Linked DNA regions of Homo sapiens: region 2 is linked to region 1. Evidence: fine-mapped expression QTL. A gene starts in region 1. The other region holds a variant in brackets. All regions are shown on one strand. Distances are from middle to middle. Region 1 holds the start of ZNF17 (zinc finger protein 17). Region 2 holds the start of ZNF547 (zinc finger protein 547).

What was found. PIP is the estimated chance that this variant, and not a neighbour inherited with it, causes the effect.
Region 2: its variant is the best candidate, but not a certain one, in a credible set for the expression of ZNF17 in whole blood (INTERVAL, PIP 0.80).

What each region holds. Positions count from the first base shown.
Region 1 is chr19:57,406,626-57,416,947 of GRCh38, forward strand. It overlaps ZNF17 (zinc finger protein 17), which reads left to right and starts at 4,536. Exons shown (of 4, transcript NM_001330617.2): 1 at 4,536-4,781; 2 at 6,971-7,011. The coding sequence starts at 6,991. RefSeq lists enhancers at 1-49, 4,540-4,649, 4,730-4,789 and a silencer at 5,033-5,235.
Region 2 is chr19:57,356,698-57,367,019 of GRCh38, forward strand. ZNF304 (zinc finger protein 304) reads left to right here. Exons shown (of 3, transcript NM_020657.4): 3 at 1-3,201. The coding sequence ends at 1,152. It overlaps ZNF547 (zinc finger protein 547), which reads left to right and starts at 6,854. Exons shown (of 4, transcript NM_173631.4): 1 at 6,854-7,006. TRAPPC2B (trafficking protein particle complex subunit 2B) reads left to right here and starts at 6,854. Exons shown (of 2, transcript NM_001355204.2): 1 at 6,854-7,006; 2 at 8,118-8,708. The coding sequence starts at 8,137. The coding sequence ends at 8,559. RefSeq lists enhancers at 6,407-6,486, 6,527-6,906. The variant T/C (reference allele first, on the strand shown) is at 4,265.

The sequences.
Region 1 (10,322 bases):
TCCGTGATGGTGGTGGCAGTGGTGCGAAACTCTTCTGGGTCGCACTTGCTGTGCTCATTAGCAGTGGTTGCAGCGGGCTCTGTGGGCCAGCCACTAGACCAGCAGATGGCGCTTGTAGGCAGGAGATGGCTGAAGTGGGTGCAGTAGGGTATTTAGGCCTAACCTCAGCGCCCTAGGAGTGCTCAGGTGTTTCACTTGGTGGACTAGGTTGTGCAATCTCTGGGGGATTTTAAAAGTTTATTTTGCAATTGAGAATGGGATGTTTAGAATTTTTGTCTCCTACTGATTAAAGGTAGAGTATGGGGAAAAAAACAGGCAAAACTAGGAGTTTAAAGAAAAGGAGAGAGAAGAAAAAGAAATGAAGATACAATAATACAGAAAGAACAGAGGGAAAAACTTTATTTATATTTAATACCTATGATGTGACATGCCCGGAGTTAGGAGCATTCATAAGCACCATCTCATATTATCCTCCAACTAAGCTACTCATGTCAGAAAAAATTAAAATTAACAAAGGTCAACAGGGAGTAAGAAATAGAAAATGGAAAGGAAACAATTTTGGAGTGAGACCTACAAAATGATCTCAGAATTTACCCTCTGATAAGTCTTTCTTTGATCCCAGAGTGCACAAAATGTTACATGAAAAAACAAATTAATATAATTACATCTAAATTTCAAGCTTTCTATTTCATAAAGATTATGAGTCAAAACTGAGTGAGTTCAGGGACTCAGAGAAGACATTTAAAATATCTAAATGTGCCCAGTTTTACGGTTTTAGGCATGCGAGTTTTAGATTTTTTTGCTTTTTTATTGAGACAGGGTCTCTTTCACCTAGGATGGAGTGTAGTGGCGTGATCTTCACTCACAGTAGCCTCCACCTCTCAGGTTCAAGCAATCCTCCCATTCAGCCTCCCCAGTAGCTGGGACTACAAGTGCGCACTACCATGCTTGGCTAATTTTTAACTTTTTTGGTAGAGACGGGGATCTCACTATACTGCCCAGGCTGGTCTCGAACTCCTAGACTCAAATGATCCTTCCACCTCCACCTTTCAAAGTACTGGGATTACAGGCATGAGCCACTGTGCCCAGCCAAAGTTTCAGATTCTTCTTAAAGGAATAAAGTCAGAGATCTTAGAAATGAACTAAAGCACGAGCATACAATAAACAAGAGAGAAAAATCAGATGGTTATCAAGAATATGAATGGATATTCAAACTCGGTGTCAGAGAAATGCAAATTAGATATTATTGCATGTTACTTTAAGTTCTATAAATTACTATACTATGGAAAGAAATATGGGGTGATGTAGCTGCAATCATGTATATTTCATGGAAGAGTCAAAGACTGTAGCAGTTTCATAAAGCAATCTGCACAGGTACTGTAAAAAAAATGATTTTCTAGAATATCATGTGACACAGAAAGCCTGTTTCTGGTATATCTCTCAGTCAAGTCCATAAATTCTTATGTGAGAGAAGTTTTCTCACAATACTGTTCAAGGCAGCAGGGACATGGAGACAATATGTTGTAGCATTAAGTGTAAGAGGAGGACCAAAGACATCTATGAGTGAAGTAGAAGACTGAATGTCCACACTAAAGTACAACAGGGCAGTTACTAGCATTTAAGTAGACTTTGACACAGGAGTATATATACATATTAAACACACATTTTGAGTACCAACAAAGGGAGAAAGAAGTCTATAGTACAGTACAATTAAACTACACAAAAAGTAACAGTGCTCCTCTTTCTAAAACACATGTAAATACAAAAACACACAACAGACCTTTAGAATTGTTGTCTACAAGTGGTGGGGTGATGAAGTGTGAGGAACAGGAATGAGTGGAAACACGTCGGAACATTGAACAAGACGAGGTCCTTGTGGGGACATAAGGAGAGAATGTCCACTCACTGTCCAGAGCCTCCTGGGCCATTGTCACCATACAGCCGCTCATTACATGAAAGTGGAATTTCAAAAGGTAGCGAAACACCTAATAAAATATGTTGAAAGGGCTGGGCATGGTGGCTCATGCCTGTAATCCCAGCACTTTGGGAGGCCAAGCCGGGTGGATCATGAGGTCAGGAGTTCAAGACCAGCCTGGCCAACATGGTGAAACCCTGTCTCTACTAAAAATACAAAAATTAGCCAGGTGTGGTGGTGCACACCTGTAGTCCCAGCTACTCGGGAGCTGAGGCAGGAGAATTGCTTGAACCCAGGAGGCAGAGGTTGCAGTGAGCTGAGATCGTGTGACTGCACTCCAGCCTGGGCAACAGAGCGAGACTCTCTCTCTCTCCCTCTCTCCATATATATATATATATATACATACACATACACAAAGATATGTGGCCTGTCACCAAGTGTTAGATGGATGTTTGGGCCAGGCGAGGTGGCTCATGCCTGTAATCCCAGCACTTTGGGAGGCTGAGGCGGGTGGATCACCTGAGGCCAGGAGTTCAAGACCAGCCTGGCCAACATGGTGAAACCCCGTCTCTACTAAAAGTACAAAAATCAGCCAGGCGTGGTGGCCATGCCTGTAATCCCAGCTACTCAGGAGGCTGAGGCAGGAGAATCGCCTGAACCTGGGAGGCAGAGGTTGCCGTGAGCCGAGATCGTGCCATTGCACTCCAGCCTGGGCGACAGAGAGAGACTCTATCTCAAAAAAAGAAAAAAAAAGTTTGTTTAGTTTCTGTTGGTAAATATCTAGAAATAGAATTGTAGGATGGTAGGGATGTATTGTTGGTAAATGATTAACATGTTTTTAATTTTCAGTTTTTTCAGAGACGGGGATCTCACTATATTGCCCAAACTGGTTTTGAACTTATGAACTCAAGTAATCCTCCCGTCTTAACTTCCATGTAGCTGGCACTACTGAACAGCTTTAACTCTTCCAGACCTTCAGTTGGGTGGTTTTTTCTTTTCCTTTCGTTTCCTTCTTTCTCTCTCCTTCCTTCCTTCTTTTTGTAATTTGATAAACCAAATTTCAAGACTTTGGCCAAAAAACAGTCTTCTCCTTTACTGAATATCTCAGTGCTCCATTTTATTTTTCCCTCACCAATTCTGCAGGAGAGATCACAAGACTATGTCCATATCTTTATTTGTGGGGGTATGATTTTCAGCTAACATAGCTGCTAAGTGATTTAATTTACAATTATAGTGGTAGAAAAATAGCTCTAACTTCTGAGGTTTTGTAATTTATTGTAAAAAGCGGAATACAGGACATTTAAAGTGACCTGACAAGGTCAATACAGGACTGAGGACTAATTCATTAAATACGTCTTACGTGTCTTAGAGGACCACAGACAGCTAGCAACCCTACTCCTAATGTGTCCCATGCACTTAGTATTGTACCTGGCATCGAATGAGTGTTCATCAAATATGTTAGAGTAATAAATACGACAGCACAGTTTCCCTATTCAGCTTTACTTTTCTGGTAACTCTTTTAATATATAGTCTTTACCTCTCCCTTCAAGCTGTTAATGCACAATGTTTTCAAGTTTGAAAAAGAATCAGATTTTGGACACCAAACTTGAGTGTGTCCAAGGTTCCAGGACAACCTTAGCTTTTTTCCTCCTATCACAAATATGTTTCTCTATAACTATTTTTGCCACTTTCTTTGGATATCTACATAATCGTCATTAATAGTTTCAGTAATAGCCATTTCACAAGAGTTATTCAGAGACAATTTCAACTCCCTGTGCAGACACTGTTGATACAATTTCAGGCGAAATGATAAATCACTTTCCACTAATGAGATGAGATCATGCATTCCCAAACCTTTATCTCAGGAGTAAGATGCTTTCTTTGCACAAGGGCTTTGACTGGTGGAAGGCCACACTATTCTGGCAGATAATGGTAGATAAGTCGCTTTTCCTTTTCAGTTAGGTTTCAGTCTCTTAAAATAAGTGGAAAATATCTCAGATATAAAGTAATAAGTATCATGTGAATAAAGTGTTGCTGGGTAGGCTGAAAGACAATAACTGATTATTCAGAAAGGAAAGATATTACTCCTCAAACTCCCCATCATGCCATGTCTGGGTCTTTTCAATGTGCCCAGCAGAGCACATTGAAGATCATAAAACAGTCTCCAGAGCTTCGTTCTGTGTGTATTTGGCAAGCACAAAAGAGCTGACCGCTATGCGTGGAAGACCAGTTCTTTATGGTTGGCCATGTTCCTTCGGATGTTCGTCTTTTGGGAACTTGCTGTGCTTTACAGAATCTGAAAGGACAGGTCTCTGAAACATTTCTCTGACTTGTTCTAGACTGCCTTCCGGGAAAATCTGGATGCTTGCCGTTTAAAAGCCAATGAAGCCCCTCCACGTCCTTGGAGCCCCGCAACTGCATTTCTCAAAGCCTCAGGAGGATCCTCCTGGCTTTCATCCTGAACGCGAGTTAACTTAAGTTCAGAAGCGGGGCAGGCAGTGGCCTGGGAACTACATTACCCAAAAGACACAGCGGCGGACACAAGCAGCGAGTGTAGCCAATGAAGGCCTAGCAGAGCGGCGTCTACGGGGGTTCGCAATGCGTGTGGGCGGGACTTCCTGCAACGCCTCCTGGGGTTGTCAATATGGCTGCGTTGGGATCTGTTCACCTTCAGGCTGAGTCGAGACTGAGGTGAAAAAGCGGAAAAACGCGAGAAAAGGTTTCCCCGTTGTACAGAGGCTAGAGTGAGGCTCGGTTGAATCGGTTGCAGGCGTTGGTGCCTCTGTCAGCGTCCAGGTCACTGCCGCTCCCGCCCCGCTCTTCCCTGGCTGTGCTGGCGGAGGCTGCGCCGATGAACCTGACTGAGGTGGGTGCCGCGTCCCAGGGCGCCCCGCCCGATCCCTCCTCCGAGTGCCGAAGCCCCGAGGAGGGGCCCTGCAGGTCAGGCCCCTGTGTCCCAAAGAGAGGAGCGTTCTTGTGTGGGGTACCGGTGTCCGCGGTGCTGTGAGGCGGGGGAGCTCCTGTCAGGGACCTGCACGTGCGAGGCTTAGAGGTGCTGCAGAGCGGGCGGCACTGGGGAGCCCGAGCGTCTTTGTCTCCACGGAGCTGAGGGTGAGGCGGAGTCTCGCCTGGGAGGGCAGCGGAGCTGCTGAAAGCCGTAGAAGGCTGTGCAGGAAGGGTTATGCCCAGAGGTAGACGTTTAAAGTTGGGAAAAACAGGATGTTAAACCAGGACAAGGGGACCGCTGAGGAGACCCCTTGAGTTATGGTAGGGATGGGCCAGAGGGGTTGCAGTAGAGGGGAAGTGTGATGAGATTCTGGATGGATCTCAGAGATAGAGTCGACAGGATTTCCTGCTGCATCAAATGTAGCAGTGAGGGTAGTGAAGGGTCTATTCCATGGATTTTGTTTTGGCCTGAAAATCTGAAAGAATGGAGTTGGAGAAGTCAGCTTAGGGAGCAGGTTTCAGAGAGGATTATGAGTTGCATTTTGGAGGGCTGAGTTTTGGAGGGCAGATCATGGGTGGGTCCATAAGCCTGACGCTACCTTTAGAAAGGCGCAGACCTGTCATAGGAGGGATTCTGGCTCATATCTGCAAAAACGGAGTTCTGAATGGGTTAAGGAACTGGCCTAGGCTGGAGACTGAGGTGTGAGGTGGTTTAGATTTCTGCACCTGCAGACCCAGCAGCCCCCCAGGCCCACTCTGTGGAACAATAGGAAGGTCATCCAGACTAGTGGGGACATTGGGTCCAGACGGGGGTAGGGCTTTCTCACATCTAGTCAAGGGCCTCCAGCAAGCTTCCAGCAACTGAATTTGTAGCAGGCAGGCCTGGTTGCTGATGGGACCAGTAACTGACCTGCTTGCTTATCCCCTCCCTGCAACTTATTTATTTATGAATGTGTAAAACATTTTTTTTTTTTTTGAGACAGAGTCTCGCTCCATCGCCCAGGTTGGAGTGCAGTGGCGCGATCTCGGCTCACTGCAAGCTCCGCCTCCCGAGTTCAAGCAATTCTCCTGCCTCAGCCTCCCGAGTAGCTGGGACTACAAGTGCCCGCCACCACGCCAGGCTAATTTTTTGCATTTTTAGTAGAGACGGGGTTTCACCGTGTTAGCTAGTATGGTCTCTATCTCCTGACCTCATGATCTGCACGCCTCAGCCTCCCAAAGTGCTGGGATTACAGGCATGAGCCACCGCGCCCGGCCGAATGTATAAAACATTTATTTAACCACTAATGAACCAGTATCCTTCTAAATATGTACACATAGGTCGGCAGTTAGAAATGAATGTAACCAATAGTTAAATTTATTCACTTAATAATTGTTGAATGTTGATTTTTCTTTTTTCTTTTTTTTTTTGAGACGGAGTCTCGCTCTGTCGCCAGGCTGGAGTGCAGTGGCGTGGTCTCGGCTCACTGCAACCTCTGCCTCCCGGGTTCAAGCGATTCTCCTACCTCAGCCTCCCGAGTAGCTGGGATTACAGACATGCGCCACCATGCCCATCTAATTTTTGTATTTTTGATAGAGACAGGGTTTCACCATGGTTGGCCAGGATGGTCTTGATCTCTGCACCTCGTGATCCGCCCACCTCGGCCTCCCAAAGTGCTGGGATTAGAGGCTTGAGCCACCATGCCCGGCTGAATGTTAATTTTTCTATTTGCTTGCAATGGAAAGTTTTATGTATCACATTTCCTTAACACCGTAAGAAGTGGGAAAAATACACACCCAAAATTTCAAAACCCTTCCATGTCATTTGTACCGAAAACATGTAAAAAATATTTAATCCAGTAGAAAGAAATTGCTGATACATAGTGTGTACTACTTATATTTGATGCCCATATAAGCCCTATTAGTTGGCAATCCTTTTAATCTCTATTTTACACATAAGGGCACCGAGACTTAAGGAAGTTCAGTCCTCATCAAGACACTGAACCCTGAGGACTTACTGTGTACCCTCAGATAACTTTGCTCTAGTTGCAGGGCCAGAGGTGGTTGTACAGTCAGCCTGTAGGATGCTGCAATGCTGTCTTAATCCTCATGGCCTGCCTCTTCCCACAGGGTTCATAGCAGTGGCAGCAATGCTTATGGATGCTGGACAGGTGAGTGGAGAGTGTTTCCAGCTTTCACCCATCCCAGATGGTTTCAGCATGCTGATATAGGGAATGGTGTTATCCTGAGACTGTTCACCTTTTCTTCTCTCTCCCTTGGGTCCAAGGAGAGCCTGTAGTTCCACCAGACCTGGGTTCCAAACTCAGTGCCTGGTTATATAGAGTGGTTCTAGTTCTCACAACTGATGGTTTGAGATTTGGCAAGGCATCTCAAACACAGGATCTAGAATGTTCAAATGCTTGGTGGTGAGACTTAGATGGGATGCTTAGAGAACTGTAGCTTAATGTTCTAGCTGGCAAGGATAAGGAGCACAGCAGCAGGGCAGGAGGTCGGGGCATGCAGGGATCAGGCATGGAATGGCAGCCTGAGGTTGTCTAGGTTTTTGTTTTTGTTTTGTTTTGTTTTTGAGACAGAATCTTGCTCTGTCTCCAGGCTGGAGTGCAGTGGCGCGATCTCAGCTCACTACAACCTCCGCCTTCCTGGTTCAAGCGATTCTCCTGCCCCGGCCTCCCGAGTAGCTGGGATTATAGGCACCCGCCACCATGCCCGGCTAATTTTTGTATTTTTTAGTAGAGATGGGGTTTCACCATGTTGGCCAGGATGTTCTCAATCTCTTGACCTCGTGATCTGCCTGCCTCGGCCCTCCCAAGGTGCTGGGATTACAGGCTTGAGCCACCACACCTGGCCTTGTTTTTTTTTTTTTTTCCAGACAGAGGCTAACTCTGTCGCCCAGGCGGGAGTGCATTGATGTGATCTCGGATCATTGCGACCTCTGTCTCCCAGGTTCAAGCAATTCTCCTGCCTCAGCCTTCCAAGTAGCTGGGATTACAGGCATGAACCAACACACCCAGCTAATTTTTGTATTTTTAGTAGAGACAGGATTTCACCATGTTGGCCAGGCTGGTCTCGAACTCCTGGCCTCAAGTGATCTGCCTGCCTCAGCCTCCCAAAGTGCTGGGATTACAGGTATGAGCCACCGTGCCCAGTGGTTCTAGGTCTTTAATCTGAGGGGGGTAGTAGCTAGGGAAGGTTTGAGAAAGAAAAAAGAGGTGATTTGACCTAGATTCTTTTTTTTTTTTTTTGAGACGGAGTCTCCCTCTGTCGCCCAGGCCAGAGTGCAGTGGCGTGAACTCGGCTCACTGCAAGCTTCGCTTCCTGGGTTCACGCCATTCTCCTGCCTCAGCCTCCCAAGTAGCTGGGATTACAGGCACCTGCCATCATGCCCGGCTAACTTTTTTTTGTATTTTTTAGTAGAGCCAGGGTTTCACCGTGTTAGGATGGTCTCGATCTCCTGACCTCATGATCTGCCCGCCTCAGCCTCCCAAAGTGCTGGAATTACAGGCCTGAGCCACTGCACCCAGCCAGATTTGACCTAGATTCTAAGAGGCTTCCTCTGCCTGCAGAATGGAGGACAGAGTGAGAGTTAGGGAAGAACCAAGGATACCTGGGTGATAATTCCTGCCACAGTCCAGTGGAGGTTGGTGGTGGCTGGACACGAGTGGCGGCTGTGGAGGTGGGAGGGGTGGGTGGCTTCTGTAGGTTTTGATCTAGAGCTGCTCACATTTTTTGATGTACAGAGCGAGGAAGCTCGGGAGGTAGGATGCAAGAGGGAGTCAGGAATGGCCCCATTGTTTTGGCCTTGTTGAGAAGGTTGGATGTTCCAGCAACTAAGATGTGGTAAATTTTGTAGTAGGGGGAGTTTAATAGAGCATATGAAGAACGAGGTTTGGGCTAAGTCAAAAATGTTCCAGAGACTCGAGTAGAGGTGCCAGACTGGCAGTTGAACACACAGGAATGGAGTTCAATGGAGGTGTTCAGGATGGAGACATCTACTATATGATAGCCAGCGTGTACACCATGGTAAATCTGTGGGTCAGATTTAGGAATAGACATCTTTAGATTCTGGAGGCAATGCTGTTAGGGAGAAGGAAGGGGAAGGAAGGGGCTGAGGACTGGATCTTTCTGTTGGGCACCTGGATGGGGTTGCTGGGCATCACAAAGACAGATGAGGGAGTGGATGGACTGAGGATATGTGTGTGTGTATTTGTGTGTTTATGTTGGAGATGGCCTTTGGAAAATAAAGGCTTTTGAGGGGGAGAGTGCACATAAAAGTTGGATGGTGAGGCATCTCCACAAAAGAGGTGAGATGATAGTGAGGTCTGGGAGGGGCTTAGTACCCTATTATGGACTCAACAGGGTTTTGTGGCAAATATTGGTTGTACCTGGGTAGTTTCACGCGAACTCTGAGACTATTTTGGCAGAAGATGGGATCATCTAGAAGCATTGCTAGTCCTGGGGTGGGGATGGTGTTGGGGAGGTCAGTGTATCTGGGCTTTGGATTAGAGTTGGGGGATAGAGAAAGTCGTGACTGCTTATGGGACAACATATACATGTAGAAGGGGGAGACAGCCAAGATCTGGAACTCAAAGGAGGTGTGCAAGAATATGTGGGTTTGGAAAGCTGAGGTCAAAGAAAGAAACAGGATTGGGTTGGGAGACGTTCAAAGCAATGTTTCCTAAACATTGCATTCTGGTCATTCTAGGGGCAAATACGATTCTGGTTGCATTTGTCATGCACTGCAGGATTTCATGTGCAGAGTGGCATGGTAACACGCCATGGAAATACTCCCAGTTGGGCTGTGGTGGTTGTTAGTGTTGCCAAGAGTGGAGGTGTTGGATACATGAGGGAGGTGCCATCCAAAGCCTGAGTGGAGGAGCATGAATAGATGGTTCCACCTCTGGCACTGGGCACTTAAGGGAGGAGGGTGAGTCCAAGTTTGGTTATCTGAGAGGCAAGATCTGGGTGACTCTAGGGAAATTGAGTGACAAAAGAAAGGTAGGCCCCCATGTGCCAGGTGTTTTTTTTGTTTTGTTTTGTTTTTTGAGATGGAGTCTAGCTCTGTTGCCCAGGATGGAGTGCAGTGGCGCGATCTCGGCTCACTGCAACCTCTGCCTCCCAGGTTCAAGCAGTACTCTGCCTCAGCCTCCCGAGTAGCTGGGATTACAGGTGCCTGCCACCATGCCCGGCTAATTTTTGTATTTTTAGTAGAGATGGGGTTTTACTATCTTGGCCAGGCAGGTCTTGAACTCCTAACCTTGTGATCTACCTGCCTCAGCCTCCCAAAGTGCTGGGATTAGAGGCATGAGCCACCATGCCCGGCCATGTGCCAGGTTTTGATGGCGCTTTTCAGTCTCTTTCCCCCACCCATCTTTGTTCTATACTGGAGTCAGTGATCAGTGGCAATGAGGGGAGAGCAGGTACAGGTGCCATGAAGACCTAGTGTCTCTTCCTCCTTCAGAAG
Region 2 (10,322 bases), 50 kb before region 1:
ATATCTCATGTGTGTAAGGAGTGTGGAAAAGCCTTCATTCACTTGCACCACCTAAAAATGCACCAGAAATTTCACACTGGAAAAAGACACTATACATGCAGTGAATGTGGGAAGGCCTTCAGCCGCAAGGACACACTTGTTCAGCATCAGAGAGTTCACACTGGAGAAAGATCTTATGACTGCAGTGAATGTGGAAAAGCCTACAGCAGAAGCTCCCACCTTGTTCAGCACCAGAGAATTCACACAGGAGAAAGGCCTTATAAGTGCAACAAATGTGGGAAAGCCTTTAGCCGTAAAGACACACTTGTTCAGCACCAGAGATTTCATACTGGAGAAAGGCCTTATGAGTGCAGTGAATGTGGAAAATTCTTTAGCCAAAGCTCCCACCTTATTGAGCACTGGAGAATTCATACCGGGGCAAGGCCCTATGAATGCATAGAATGTGGAAAATTCTTTAGCCATAACTCTAGCCTCATTAAACATCGGAGAGTCCACACAGGAGCAAGATCCTACGTGTGCAGCAAATGTGGGAAGGCCTTTGGCTGCAAAGACACACTTGTTCAGCACCAGATAATTCACACTGGAGCAAGGCCTTATGAGTGCAGTGAATGTGGGAAGGCCTTCAGCCGTAAAGACACACTTGTGCAACACCAAAAAATCCACACTGGAGAAAGGCCTTATGAGTGTGGTGAATGTGGTAAATTCTTCAGCCATAGCTCCAACCTTATTGTACACCAGAGAATTCACACTGGAGCAAAGCCTTATGAGTGCAATGAATGTGGGAAATGCTTTAGCCACAACTCCAGCCTCATTTTGCACCAGAGAGTTCACACAGGAGCAAGGCCTTATGTGTGCAGTGAATGTGGGAAGGCTTACATTAGTAGCTCCCACCTTGTTCAACACAAGAAAGTTCACACTGGAGCAAGACCTTATGAGTGCAGTGAATGTGGGAAATTCTTTAGCCGCAACTCTGGCCTCATTCTGCACCAGAGGGTTCACACTGGAGAAAAGCCTTACGTATGCAGCGAATGTGGGAAAGCCTATAGCAGAAGCTCCCATCTTGTTCGTCACCAGAAAGCTCACACTGGAGAAAGAGCTCACGAGTGCAACAGTTTTGGTGGCCCTTTAGCTGCATCTCTTAAACTTGTTTAACACCAGAAAATTCACACAAGAGAAAGGCCTTATGAATGCAGAAAATATGTCATCTTGTTCATCCTCATAGGACTCACACCAGAGCAATGCTCTGTGAGTACCCTTTGTGAGGGAACCATCAGCTAGCAGATGAGCACCGTATATTCATTCCACCCTGGGGAGATTCCTGATAAGCACCACATATGTGGGAGGCTTTCATGAGGTGTGTTGCACTTTGTAACTGTCTAGAGCTCTTGATGGAATTATATCACTGCCAGTGCCTGTGGCGGAAGCCATCTTATTGCTACCAGCTGTGTGTGTCAATCACTCCATTTTGCTCAGGGAAGGCAGACTTCTGTGCTTTCTTTCCTGTTCCCTACAGGTAATCATGAATATTTTCAAGGACTTCCCCCCCCCCCCACTTCACCCCCTACCATTGAGGGTCCTCATCTTTTCCCTCATGATTAGGTTCTGAGCAAACATGATCTAGCTCTCACCAAAAGGACCTGAGCTAGGGTCTGCTGGGATTTCCTGACACGATTTTCCATCTTCATGGACAATGTTAACTGTAAACGTGATAGCTGTGACTTACTTGTCTTACTGCCAAATCGCCCAAATTTGGAACTGCTTGTCCCATGCTGCTCTGATTTATACAGTGATAAGGGCCTATTGTGGCAGTCTTTACTCTTGGGGATTTTGTTACTGTGTAGAGTGGATTGAGAAAAGAATTGGGTTCTGTCATGAAGGGAGTAGCACCTTTTGTGGGCACCACCTTTATGTGCCTCAGAGGGGACCAAAGGATGGCAGAAAACTGTTCTCAGTCTAGTTTGACCTAATTTACACTATTGCCCTAGGCTTGCTAGGAAAGACTGAAAAAATTTTTGTGCCTAACTTTGTGGCCTGGCTGCCAGGATTTCCTGTGAGCCCAGTGAGGAGGGCATAGTTGGTGCGAAAATCTCCTGTGCTTGTGGAAGCAACATAAGTTGGGTCCCTTAACTGTCACGTACTCCCCAGCACTGTTGAGGGATTGCTGTCTTCTGTACCTGTACAGGATCAAGTCCCTGATATCCAGAACCCCATAGGCAAGTAACATTGACTGTAAGACCTCTGTAGGGCAATGTGAAAATCATGATTGCTACAGAAGCACTGAGATAATGGAGTGGGGATGACTGTGGCAAACAAAAGGAGATTCGAACATTCTAGAGGGGCATCCACAAGTCTCGGTGCAGTTATGATGGTGTGGGATGGGAGTGCATAGAAATTCTCAGGACCTTCAGACATCTGTATCTCCTGTGGCCAAGGCCACTGTCAGAGGAAATAATCTAAATGTTTGTGGATTCCTGTGTCTCCCTGGGCAGTTGACCTGCACAGACAGGAACCTCAGCAGTGACAGAAGAGAGATCCAGGGATGGGTCTTCTCTGACCCAGCCAGCATTCCGAGTGACTGAGGTGGATGTGGACATCATTGCTTACCAATTTTTACCAACATTGAGGCAGGGCTCACTCTCCTAAATTGTAGGGAGAGGAATATGGTAAAGCCAAAATAGTTGACAGATCTAACTTTCCTAGTGGAACAGTATATATAGATTTTAATGAGGAACATTTATTTAATAGCTTTATGGAGGTATGATTAACATGCAATAAACTGCAAATATGTAAAGTGTAAAATGTGCTGTTTCAGCATGTGTGTACACCTATGAAACCACCACAGTCAAGATATCCAACACAACAAAAGATTGTCCCTTTATAATCCTCAATTTTTCCTTATCTTGTTTTCCACAATTCACAAGCAACAGCAAGCATTTTCTATAATTTTATAAATGAAACCATATGGTGTGTACTTTTTAGGGGGTGGGGCTCTGGCTTTTTCAGTAAACATAACTATTTTAAGGTTAATCCATTATCTTGTTGCATGAATCAATTGTTTGCTCATTTGTATTGCTGCGTAGTATTTCAGTATTTCATTGTATACCACAATTTTTCTTCTTTGTCAACTTAATTGTTATGGATGTTTGGGTAACTTTCAGTTTTTGGCTATTACAAATAAACCTCTGAAGATTTGTGTGCAAATTATGGCTGAATGATATTCCATTCTATAAATACACCTCAGTTTCTTTATCCATTTACTTATTGAAGGACGGTTGCTTTCAAGTTTTGGCAGTTATGAATAAACCTACTACATATTTGTATAGTTTTTCTGTGGAGATGTTTTCAACTCATTTGGATATGTGCCAAGGAGTGCAATTTTCTCTGTCATATAGCATGTTTAGTCTTGTAAGAAACTGCCAAGCTGTCTTCCAAAGCGGCTGCACCATTTATTTTATTTATATATATTTTTTGAGACAGAGTCTCCACTCTGTCACCCAGGCTGGAGTGCAGTGGTATGATCTTGGTTCACTGCAACCTCCACCTATTTTAGTAGACATGGGTTTTTACCATGTTGGCCAGGCTGGTCTCAAACTCCTGACCTCAAGTGATCACCCTCCTCGGCCTCCCAAAGTGCTGGGATAACGGGGGTGAGCCACTGCAACGGGCTGTGGCTGTACCATTTTTGCATCCAACTAACAATGATTGAACATTCCTCTTGCATCTCATCCTAATCAGCATTTGGCATTTTCAGTATTTTGGATTTTAAAATGCCATTCAAATAGGTGTGTAGTGGTATGCCATTGTTGCTTTTATTTGCAATTCCCTAATAACACACAATAAGTATCTTTTTTAAAGGCAGGGTTGTTTTGTTTTGTTTTGAAATGGAGTCTTGCTCTGTTGCCCAGGCTGGAGTACAGTGGCATGATTTCGGCTCACTGCAACCTCCACCTCCCGGGTTCAAGCGATTCTCCCACCTTAGCCTTCCAAGCAGCTGGGACTACAGGCACCCGCCACCATGCCCAGCTAATTTTTGTATTTTTAGCAGAAATGGGGTTTCGCCATGTTGGCCAGGCTGGTCTCGAACTCCTGACCTCAGGTGATCTGTCTGCCTCGGCCTCCCAAGGTGCTGGGATTACAGGTGTGAGTCACTGCGCCCAGCCTGGCTGGGGTTTTTTTATGTGAGTTTCACACACCTCTGAGTAAGTGGCTTGCAGACAGAGAAGTTAACAACTTTGGCTGTTAGCTTGAACCTGTGATTTATGAA[T/C]ACCAAAAAGACAAATACAGAATCTAAGGAAACACATAACAGTCCTGTATACACACAGCAGCTGGCAGCCCTATTCCCGGTGTGTCCCATATACCTACCATTGACCTGAAACCCAGTTTGTACGTGCTCATTGAACATTTTGTAGAGCAGTAAATACACATCATCACACAGATTGCCTACTCATTTTTATTTTTATTTTTCGAGACGGAGTCTTGCACTGTCACCCAGGCTGGAGTGCAGTGGCGCGATCTCTGCTCACTGCAACTTCCACCTCCTGGGTTCAAGCGATTCTCCTGCCTCAGCCTCCCAAGTAGCTTGGATTACAGGCACCCGCCACCATGCCCAGATAATTTTTGTATTTTTAGTAGAGACAGGGTTTCACTATGTTGGCCAGGCTGGTCTTGAGCTCCTGACCTCGTGATCCGCCCACCTCGGCCTCCCAAATTGCTGGGATTGCAGGCGTGAGCCACCGCACCCGGCCTTCATTTTTATTTTTTGACAAGTGTTTCCATTTGTTATCTCTATCCCTCCAAACAGTTAATAAGCGATGTTTTCAAGTATGAAATAAGAAATACATATAGGAGACAGAAGCATAATGTGTCCAGGTTCCAGCACAGCCAGTCTCAACTTCATTCTTTGACTTCTCAGACTCTTGCTCAAACTCTACTGTAACCTTGCTTTTTCCCCCCTTCACATGTCACAGAGAGATTTCTGTAGGACTATTTCTGCCACTAGTTTTGAAATAACATAATCACTGTTAGTCCAAACTGCACCATCCTGTAAGCCCCCTGCCATCTCACAGACCTTGGTCAGAGTGAAGCATTCCACGGAGTGAGGGCCTTGAGAAACATCCTGCCCAACTGCCTGACTTTCTTATCACATCGTTCTGGGAAAAGATCCAAGGAAGGTCACTATCACATCCTGCCGGATAAAAGGCCAAACTGCCTCAGGAACATCTTACGCACATCCTTTGGCCGGGTGCTGTGGCTCACGCCTGTAATCCCAGCAATTTGGGAGGCCGAGGCGGGCGGATCACCTGAGGTCAGGAATTCCAGACTGGCCTGACCAACATGGTGAAACCCTGTCCCTACTAAAAATACAAAAAAATTAGCCGGGCGTGGTGGCACGCGCCTGTAAAGCCAACTACTCGGGAGGCGGAGTTCAAGAATCGCTTGAACTCCGGGAGGCGGAGGTTGCAGTGGGCCGAGATCACGCCATTGCACTCAAGGCTGGGCGACAAGAGCGAGACTCCTCCAAAAACAAAAAAAAACCCACCATCCTCCTGGGCAGCAAGTCATACCCTCCCGCCGCGCCCCCTGCCCCCCACCCCTGACCCCTCTCATCCAGGCCTATAATTGCCCCAGCCTGTAAGCAGTGAGGGGTTCTGGCACTAAGCTAGTTCTCCCCATCACAGGTCTCGTGCTGGACATAAAACCTGCATTGCTGTAGAGCTGCCAACTCTGCCTTTCTTTAACCCTCGCCTTCCCTTCAAAACCTAACAGTTATTATTAATAGATTTCTGTAATTTTCATTTCACAAGTATTTTCACAGATAATTTCAACTCCCTGTAAAATGATAACTCACTTCTCAGGAAGGAGATAAGATCATGAAAGTTCACAGTTTTTATTGGGGATAATACGTTCCCTGTGTACATATACTCCAACTATGGAATGGCACAAAATGTCCTGTCAGGAAATGGCATGTATCAGTCACTCTCATTTTCAGACAGGATTGAGACTTTTAAAATAAATGTAAAATATTTCAGACATGAAGTAATAAGTATTATTAGAATAAAAGCATTGCACTCTTGGTAGGAACACAATCACTGACTCTACAGACAGTAATGATGTTTTCTTCTGGATCCAGAGGCACAGCGTCACCCTTTCAATCTACGTCGGTATCTCCTGTCTTCTTTTGTGCAAATTCCCAGCCATGTAGTCTTTCTTTGTTCTCTTGGACCAACCATATTGAAGCTTAATAAATAGAAGTCAAAGTTTAACTGTATGTGTATTTGAAAAGCAACATATGGCTGAGAGGCATGAGTAGAGACAGAGTGCCTTTGTGGTATAGTGTGTCCCTTTGGCGGTGTAGCCGTTGAGAACTTGCTGTGCTTCACAATCCGATATCATAGGTCCCTCACATTTCTGTGAGTATCCTAGACCTTACTTCAAGAAAATCTGGTTATGTCGCCTTTAAGAGCAACCCAAGCCCCGTCCTGTCCGTGGAGTCCGGCACTCTGTTTACCAGCTCCCCTGACGGTGCCACTGAGCCTCTATCCGCCATATAAGGACTGACCAACGCTCTAAGGCAAGTCCAGAAGCGGTGTCGAAACTTCATAACCCAGAAGACACTGCGGTTCTCGGCAGCGCGACTGACCCAATGAATGTGCAGGAAGGAACCTTTGCGTGCGTGCGTGCGTGCGTGCGTCCGTCCTCGTGCTCGCGCATCGTAGGAGGGCGGGACTTCCGGCGTCCTCTTGCCGTGGTTGATTTGATTTTCTCTGGTGTTTTCACTAGTTCCGGCCTTTGGCGCTCTATGACGTCACCGAAGTGACGGAGCGGAAAAGCGCGAGAAGCGGCTTGGTTCCTTGTACGCAGAGGCGGTAGTGACACAGGCACAACTGACAGTGGCAGAAGCTCAGCTGACAAGGACTGGGGACGGCGGTGTCCTTGTCTTGCCTTTGTCGCCCCCGCCCCTCTCTTCCCTGGCTGGACTTGCGGAGTCCCCGCCGAAGAACCCGAGGTGGGTGCCCCGTCCCAGGCCCCCCCCCACCTCCGCCCGACCCCTCCTTCCAGTGCTGAAGCCCATAGAAGGGGCCCTGCAGGTCAGGCCCCTTGTCTCGAAGAGAGGGGCGTTCCTGTGTGGGGTCCCCGTATCAGCTGGTTTGATGCAGCCTCAGAGCTCCCTTCGGGGATCTCAGGTTCAGAGCATGGAGGTGCTGCCAAGTGGGCCGCGTCGGGGAGCCCGGAGTGTGGGTTGTTTCTGCGGGAAAGAGAGGGTTTTGTGAATTTTCTCTTGGAATGGCAGCCTGAGCAGCCGGTATAACCATGGAAGGTTGTCAAGGGAAGACCAGTGGGAGGGGCAGGTCCAGAGTTAGAACGAGCAGGATGGGGAATTGACACAGAGAGACCCAGAAGAGGCCACTGCAGTGGATCCCAGAGGCTGCACCAGAGCCGTGGTATAAGAGGGACAATGTGATGGGATTCTGGATAGACCTGGAAGATAGAGCCAACAGGTTTTCCTGCCGTATCAGATATGTCTGTGAGCAAAAATAGGGAGTGAAGGGTCATTTTTTTTTTTTTGCCCGAACATCTGAAAGAATGAAGTTGGGGAAGTCAGCAGCATGAGAAGTAGGTTTCATGGAGAAGATCATGGGTTGGAGTTTGGCCAGTGTGATTCTCAGGCGTCTCAAGTTGAAAATGTCACATGGGTAGGGGGACAGAAAGGTGTGGAGTCTACAGAGGAGAACTGGTGTAGATTCTTCAAAAGAATAGAGGGTGGCCGGGCGTGGTGGCTCACGCCGGTAATCCCAGCACTTTGGGAGGCCAAGGCGAGCGGATCACAAGGTCAGGCGTTCAAGACCAGCCTGACCAACATGGTGAAACCCCGTCTTTAGTAAAAATACAAAAATTAGCCGGGGGTGGTGACGCGCGCCTGTAATCCCAGCTATTCGGGAGGCTGAGGCAGGAGAATTGCCTGAACCCAGGAGGTGGAGATTGCAGTGAGCCAAGATCGCGCCATTGCACTCCAGCCTGGGCGACAGAGCGAGATTCCGTGTCAAAAAAAGGTGCGGAGCGCGGGTCTCTTCCGCGGAAACTGACATTGCGTTTCCGTTGTCGGCCTCCCGCTGCAGGAGCCATATATTGAAGACCATGTCTGGAAGCTTCTACTTTGTAATTGTTGGTCACCATGATAATCCAGTTTTTGAAATGGAGTTTTTGCCAGCTGGGAAGGCAGAATCCAAAGACGACCATCGTCATCTGAACCAGTTCATAGCTCATGCTGCTCTCGACCTCGTAGATGAGAACATGTGGCTGTCGAACAACATGTACTTGAAAACTGTGGACAAGTTCAACGAGTGGTTTGTGTCAGCATTTGTCACCGCGGGGCATATGAGGTTTATTATGCTTCATGACATAAGACAAGAAGATGGAATAAAGAACTTCTTTACTGATGTTTATGATTTATATATAAAATTTTCAATGAATCCATTTTATGAACCCAATTCTCCTATTCGATCAAGTGCATTTGACAGAAAAGTTCAGTTTCTTGGGAAGAAACACCTTTTAAGCTGAATGGAGAAAATTCCAAAATAAATTATATCACCACAATGGTGTATACTCAGGAATGTGTACATTGTAAATTACTTGATTAAATAGCCTGGAAATCTTTTGTGTATTCTCAGCTTATCTAAACTTAATGAAATTTCTTTTATATTTAAAAATAGTACATTCTGTCTCATGTCACATATCAGTAGATCAATTAGTATTTCCTTGTGAACAATGTTATTTATAAAGAACTCATTATCAATAATAATTAATTTCTTTCTTTTTTTTTTTTTTTTGAGACGGAGTTTTGCTCTTGTTGCCCAGGCTGGAGTGCAGTGGCACAGTCTCGTCTCACTGCACCCTCCGCCTCCCAGGTTCAAGCAATTCTGCCTCAGCCTCCCGAGTAGCTGGGATTACAGGCTCCCACCACCATGCCTGCCTAATTTTTTTTGTATTTTTAGTAGAGACGGAGTTTCGCCATGTTGGTCAGGCTGGTCTTGAACTCCTGACCTCGTGATCTGCCTGCCTCGGCCTCCCAAAGTGCTGGGATTACAGGCATGAGCCACCACTCCCGGCCATGAAATATTTTTACTTAAAAATTGGGAATAAGCTTTCTTTTTCTTTCTTTCTTTCTTTTTTTTTTTTCTTTTGAGATGGAGTCTGGCTCCTGTTGTGCAGGGGCTGGAGTGCAGTGGCACGATCTTGGCTCACTGCAACCTCCACCTCCCGGGTTCAAGCAATTCTCCTTCTTCAGCCTCCCAAGTAGCTAGGATTACAGGCATGCACCACCACGCCTGGCTAATTTTTGTATTTTTAGTAAAGACGGGATTTCACCATATTGGTCAGGCTGGTCTTGAACTCCTGACCTCGTGATCCGCTCGCCTCGGCCTCCCAAAGTGCTGGGATTACAGGTGTGAGCCACTGCGCCTGGCCATGAAATATTTTTTACTTAAAAATTGGGAATAAGCTTTTTTGTGTGTGTGTGTATGTTTTTGTTTTTTTGTTTTTGAGATGGAGTCTTGCTCCTGTCATGCAGGCTGGAGTGCAGTGGCACGATCTTGGCTCACTGCAGCCTCTGCCTCCCGGGTTCAAGCAGTTCTCCTTCCGCCTCCAGAGTAGCTGGGATTACAGGCATACGCCTGGCTAATTTTTGTATTTTTAGTAGAGACAGGGTTTCGCCATTTTGGCCAGGCTGGTCTTGAACTCCTGACCTCAGGTTATCTGCCTGCCTCGGCCTCCCGGAGTGCTGGGATTACAGGTGTGAGCCACTGCGCCTGGCTGGGAATAAGCTTTCGACTTGCCCAATTCAGATAAATTGTTTTTTTTTTTTTTTTTTTTGACGTGGAGTTTTGCTCTGTCGTCCAGGCTGGAGTGCAGTGGCGCTTGGCTCACTGCAACCTCTGCCTCCTGACTTCAAGCGATTCTCCTGCCTCAGCCTCCCAAAGTGCTGGGATTACAGGTGTGAGCCACCATACCCGGCCCAGATAGGTTGATCTTATAACAATCCAGAAACAAATGTCATAGTCAAGATTTGGTAGATAGATTTAAAACTAAAATATTCTGCCATTGGAAGTGAAATGTCATAGCACATACGTGGACGTTATGCATTTAGAGATGTTATAAAAATGTATTGGCAGTATACATAGCACTACTCAAGAAGCCAAAGAAACACTTGTGCAGTGCTAAGTGTCACATGTCTGCTTCTGCCAGAGGCTAGGAATAGTGATCTTGCTATAATGTGAGAACCTGAATCATGTTTGTAAAATAGGAGGCTGGGAGCAGTTCCAGGC